Linked DNA regions of Homo sapiens: region 2 is linked to region 1. Evidence: fine-mapped expression QTL. A gene starts in region 1. The other region holds a variant in brackets. All regions are shown on one strand. Distances are from middle to middle. Region 1 holds the start of BFSP2-AS1 (BFSP2 antisense RNA 1). Region 2 overlaps CDV3 (CDV3 homolog).

Evidence for each region. PIP is the estimated chance that this variant, and not a neighbour inherited with it, causes the effect. A credible set is the group of variants that fine-mapping cannot tell apart.
Region 2: its variant is the best candidate, but not a certain one, in a credible set for the expression of BFSP2-AS1 in whole blood (INTERVAL, PIP 0.86).

Annotation. Positions count from the first base shown.
Region 1 is chr3:133,489,425-133,492,340 of GRCh38, reverse strand. It overlaps BFSP2-AS1 (BFSP2 antisense RNA 1), which reads left to right and starts at 1,232. Exons shown (of 4, transcript NR_189064.1): 1 at 1,232-1,439. It also overlaps the pseudogene MAF1P1.
Region 2 is chr3:133,579,263-133,582,178 of GRCh38, reverse strand. All of the region lies in intron 2 of CDV3 (CDV3 homolog), which reads right to left. Among named protein-coding and RNA genes, the nearest start is that of CDV3, 7.0 kb to the right of the region's middle. The variant C/T (reference allele first, on the strand shown) is at 1,583.

The DNA of each region.
Region 1 (2,916 bases):
ATGTATGGCAGCAGCTGCAGCAGCATGGCGGGGTGCACACGTGTTAGCTGGGGAGGGGTTCCAGCAGAAATGGGGAGGCGGTGTTCCTGCATGTGCTCATGCCAGTGGTGGTGGTGGTGCATTGGTAGGGGGGAAAATGGGGGCTGGGGCACTGGCAGCCGTGGGGTTGCTGGTGTTGCACTTGTACTGGCGGTGGTGGCAGCTGGGGTGGGGTGCTGGTGGAGGTGAGGTTGCCAGCATTCATGAGCATGTTATAAAATTTTTAAATTTTTGTCTCAATTTTTTTTAAGTCACAAACATTTTTATTGGAAAGCAATGAGCTGCAGCAAAGTGACACTCAGTGCATGCAGCCAAATGGGTGAGGTGGGGGTACAGGTGGGTGCCAAGAGCTGACCCAAGACTAGAGCTCATGACCTCTGGGGCCTCTGGCTATAAGCCCTTTGGGCTGGAGTGTGCAGGCCCAGCAGAAATACAAAAATAAACTCTGTGGTCTAGCTGTCCCTGCCTGTGGTAGTTCGTTTGGGCAAGGTGGTTACTCTTTGCAGCAGGTCCTGTGCTGTCTAGTCCAGCCACAGCGTGGGCAGCAGAAGCCTATGGGGTTGAGTGGACACCTACAGGCTGGAGCCAAAGGGCCAGGCAGGTGTGGCCTTGGGCAGTGCTGAGACTCTGACAGCACCAGGGTCTGGCCTGCAGCTGGGGAGGCCTCAGGGCCTCTCAGGTGGGCAGGTCCAGGCATTGGTTGAAGCTGGATGAAGCTGGGGCCTGTGCTACTCCTCATCACATACAAATCACTGGGAACCTGTCCTCCTTGGTCTGGTCTCTTCGGCCCCACCCTCACTGCCTCCACCTCTGCTTCCTTTCTCTTCCTCCTCTTCCCCCAGTTCCAGGTCCATCTCGTTGCCTGCCTCTGAGGGTGTGCAGGTGGAGCTGCTAATGGAGCGGTGGCTGAAGAAAACAATTTGCTTGAGCCCTTTGTTGTAGAAGAAGTAGTTGAAGGACCAGAGGGTATCTTCTTCTCTGAAGGCATCTGGGTCCATGTCTGGGTTATAGCTGTGGGTGTCTCATTAAGCCAGGTGGATCTCCTCATCCACTGTGTTCCACAGCTGTGTTCTAGGACCTTGATGTCCCCCCACGCAGCTGAGAACAGACTGCGGTTGACTGCATTCACCACCCACCTGAGGCTGGGCTTCCGGCTGAACCCATGGCTGCGGGCTGTGCTGAGGTCATAGTCAGGCCTGAAAGGACTCGCTGAGCATGACAATCAAGTGGAAGAGGGTCTTGCAATTGCACTTGTCCCTGAGGGGGGCCCTTGTCCTTGCCACCTTGGTTCTTGCTCAGGCTGCTGGGGCTGAGGCCTGAGGTCTGGGATGGGGAGAGAGCCTTCAGTATGTGGGCCGCCCTCCTGTCAGAACAGTGTTTGTCGTCTCCTGCTATCTTACGTGAGTAGCTCTCAATCCTGCTGATAATGTGGGTATCTTTGCTCTCTACAGTTAGCTGTGAGTTGATGGCTTCAAAGCCCAGTTCTCCAATAGCTTCCTGTCTCAGGGAGGGAGCTCCATGCTTGAGAGGGGCCATTGCTGCCTGCCTGGTGGGGCTAAATCAGGCCTGGCTGGGTCATCGGCACCGGTGCATAGGCAGGGCAGGCTCCGCACAGTGTGGGCTCCTCAGCACCAGAGGGTGGCACCGTGGCATCCACCTGGGCCACACTGTATCTGGGGGAAGAAACTCCATGGCAATGTTTCATTATACCTGGCCCTGCTGGCTCATCCAGGTGGTCACTATGACACATCCTTACCACACTGCACATTGCCTGCTTTAGCCACCAACATGCCACCAACCACCACAGATCACCTTGGTCAGCCAGCAACCTCCACCTCCCCCACCAGTCAATGTCTATCAGTCAAAATTCCTAGAACTAAATAAGTATAAAAGAAACTTAACTACTTCAACTTAAAAATAATTTGCTTCTGTCTGCCTATGAAAATGTTAATATTTGTGAAATCTGAGTGAAGGGTATATGGCAATTCTTCAACTATTCTTTCAACTGCTCTGTAAGCCTGAAATTATGTTAAAATAAAAATTCAAAAACAAAAGCCAAAAACCTTGTACCCTTAAGGGTTACTTGAGTTAGTGGTTCACAGCAACAGATACTCAAATCTGGTTTGTGTTACTTCTGAAAATTAAGCTTCATATCTTTTTCTTCATGGCTCTTTCTGGTGTAAAGTACAACTTGAATCTCATGTTAGAAGGTCTATCCCAACAAAGCCCAGACCACTGGACTCTAGAGGCTTCACGCATGTGGCAGACTCCTGAATATTGTCAGGCTTTATCTCCCATTTTCTGGCATTGCAGGTACTTTACTAAGGCATTTAGGTGCTAGCTCTTTGGGGCTCTCCAGGTCCAATTAGCATGATAAAGATATGTAATGGATCAGCTTGGGCTTCTGGGTCCCTCCAGATTGCATTCTGACTAAGTGCAGGCAAGCCGACATAGCCCGGAGGCAGGACAGTAAAAGTATACTGCTGTCCCTGCCACAACAGGGCAGAAGAGGATTAAGGTGGGGGTGGGCAGGATAAAGCATTTGCCAGGTCAATAGTGGCCCAGGTGCCAGGGACTGTGTGGATTTGCTCCAGTAAAAATACCGTCTCTGCAATTCTGGTTGTGATTCACCTCACCACTGGATTAGTCCGTGATGATCTGTGGTCATTTTCTATGACCTACTTGATTTGTACACTGATCAAACAAGTGAGTTAATTGTGGATTTGGTAGGAATCACTACCTTGTATCTTTCAAGTCTTTGGTGGTGGCATTAAGCTCATGTGAGGAGCAGAAAAAAAGTTTGTGAGAAGGCTGGCACACTGTAGGAGCTTGATAAATGATAGCTATCATCATTGTTGTTGTCATGTGTTATTGTCT
Region 2 (2,916 bases), 90 kb before region 1:
TGTCAAAAATAAAAAATAAAAAATAATGGCAGCATTGTATGAATTACCTACCAACCAGAAGTGACTGCAGAATTTGGAGGCTAGAGTGACAATGAGGAAGAGTGGAAAGAAGAACAGATTTATCTCGTCTACATTTACAGCAAGATTTTACTTACAACTTTATCTGAGAGGAAAAAGGATAGAGAATATGGCAATTCATCCCTAAGAGGTCTGAGAAAGAAAAAAATGCAATTTAAAATAAAAATATAGCCAAGCCATCTCTCAGTTTTCCTTTTCGTTAACATGTAAGAGAATTCTATGCAGCCATTTAAAATGTAAACCCTATGCTGACATGGAGGTAGTATTCATGTCATATAAACCAAAATTCACTAAAACAACATCTATATACCTAATATAAATACAAAAACATCTACAACAATTTTAAAAAGTTTTATAGAGTAGCTCTGGGTGCTAGAATGTATGACTTTATCTTCTTCATGCAGCAAGCAATTAGGAGCAGATTCTAAAGTCAGGCTTCCTGGTTCAAATCCAGGCTCTGCCACTTACCAGCCAGGAAACTTTGAACATGGCACTTCATTTCTTTATACCTCAATTTCCTCTTATGTAAAATGGAGGTGACAACCCCATAATAATCAGCACTATTTACTGATTATCCCTAAATAGAAGAGACTACAGATAATTCTTACATATTTCTTTATGCTTCTACATTTTTCTCAAAAAAATTTCTAAAAACAAGCATATTATTTTTATAACCTACATAAAAAATCATTTTTTATTTTTAAAAATTAATTTTTAGAGACAGGGTCTTGCTCTGTCACCCAGGCTGGAGTACAGAGGCCCAATCTTAGCTCACTGCAATCTTCAACTCCAGGGCTCAAGAGATACTCCCACCTCAGCCTCCCAAGTAAGCTAGAACTAAAGGTGCAGACCACCACAATTGGCTAATTTTACTTTTTTACATTTTTTTGTAGAGACAGGGTCTTGCCCAGGCTGGTCTTGAACTCCTGGCCTCAAGTGATCCTCCTACCTCTGCCTCCCAAAGTGCTGGGATTACAGGAGTGAGCCACCACGCCCAGCCTCACAGAAAGCTTTTAAATAAAAACTCCTATTTGGTCTGATGGAATAGTGACAGTATCTCAACTGGAAGTTTTTTTTTTACTGTCTAGTGTCTAACATCTCCTTGCCCTTAGGAAAAAAATTAAAAAATAAAATAATCTCAAATTTAAAATACACCTAGTTTACAAACTATTACCAAAAAATAAGCATAATCTGTTTAATTAGAGGGATTGTACATCAATAATAAAAGGCACAAGGAGACAATTTAGTATTTTGGATTCTTGGCCAGGTGCAGTGGCTCATGCCCTAATCCCAGCACTTTGGAAGGCCAAGGTGGGAGGATCACTTGAGGCCAGGAGTTCAAAACCAGCTTGAGCAATATAGCAACACAGTGAGACTCTGTCTCTATTTTTTTTTTTTGAGATGGAGTTTCACTCCTGTTGCCCAGACTGGAGTGCAATGGCCTGATCTTGGCTCACTGCAACCTCTGCCTCCCGGGTTCAAGCAATTCTTCTATCTCAGCCCA[C/T]CAAGTAACTGGGATTACAGGCATGCGCCATCATGCCCAGCTAATTTTTTGTATTTAGTAGAGACGGGGTTTCACCATGTTGGCCAGGCTGGTCTCGAACTCCTGACCTCAAGTAATCCACCTGCCTCAGCCTCCCAGAGTACTGAGATTACAGGCGTGAGCCACTGTGCCCGGCCAAAAGAAATTTTTTTAAATAAATATTTTGGGTTTTTCCAAATGTACATTAATAATAGACTGGATAAAGAAAACGTTGCACATATACCCCAAGGAATACTATGCAGCCATAAAAATGGATGAGCTCATGTCCTTTGCAGGGACATGGATAAAGCTGGAAACCATCATTCTCAGCAAAATATCACAAGGACAGAAAACCAAACACTGCATGTTCTCACTCACAAGTGGGAGTTGAACAATGAGAACAAATGGACACAGGGAGGGGAACATCACACACCAGGGCCTGTTGGGGGGTGGGGGACTGGGGGAGGGATAGCGTTAGGAGAAATACCTAATGTAAATGACAAGTTGATGGGTGCAGCAAACCACCATGGCACATATATACCTATGTAACAAACCTGCACGTTGTGTACATGTACCCTAGAACTTAAAGTATAATAATAATAAAAATAAATAAGTATTTTGGGTTAAGATTCTGAAATACTAGCTAAACTAAACATGTGGAAATTGTCTAGTCAAGACTCTTTATCAGCCGGGCGCAGTGGCTCATGCCTGTAATCCCAGCATCTTGGGAGGCAGAGGCGGGCAGATCACTGGAGGTCAGGAGTTCGAGACCACCCTGACCAACATGGTCAAACACTGTCTCTACTAAAAATACAAAAATTAGCTAGGCGTGGTGGCACATGCCTCTAATCCCAGCTACTTGGGAGGCTGAGGCAGGAGAATCGCTTGAACTTGGGAGGTGGAGGTTGCAGTGAGCGGAGATTGCGCCATTGCACCCCAGCCTGGGTAACAAAAGCAAAAACTCTATCAAAAAAAAAAAAGAACGAACAAACCAAAAACACTCTTCATCCAACAATTGAAGGAATTGAAGCCCAGAGATGCTTAGAGGCTTGCCTAAATGCCAGTTAGCAGGGTAGAAATGATTTACATATTTTATTACTTTTTCATCTTTACATATTTCAGAAAGTATCAACTCTCCAAATGTCATAGCAGAACAAGAAACACGTTCCAAACGGTTATTTCCATGGGAGACAGGCTGAAATTCAGTGTTTGACCCAAATATAATATATAGCTTCCCATCAGCTAAATTTTATAAACAAACACTACAATACTGCTGTAAATTCATCACAATTCCACATATACGGTCTTAAATATGT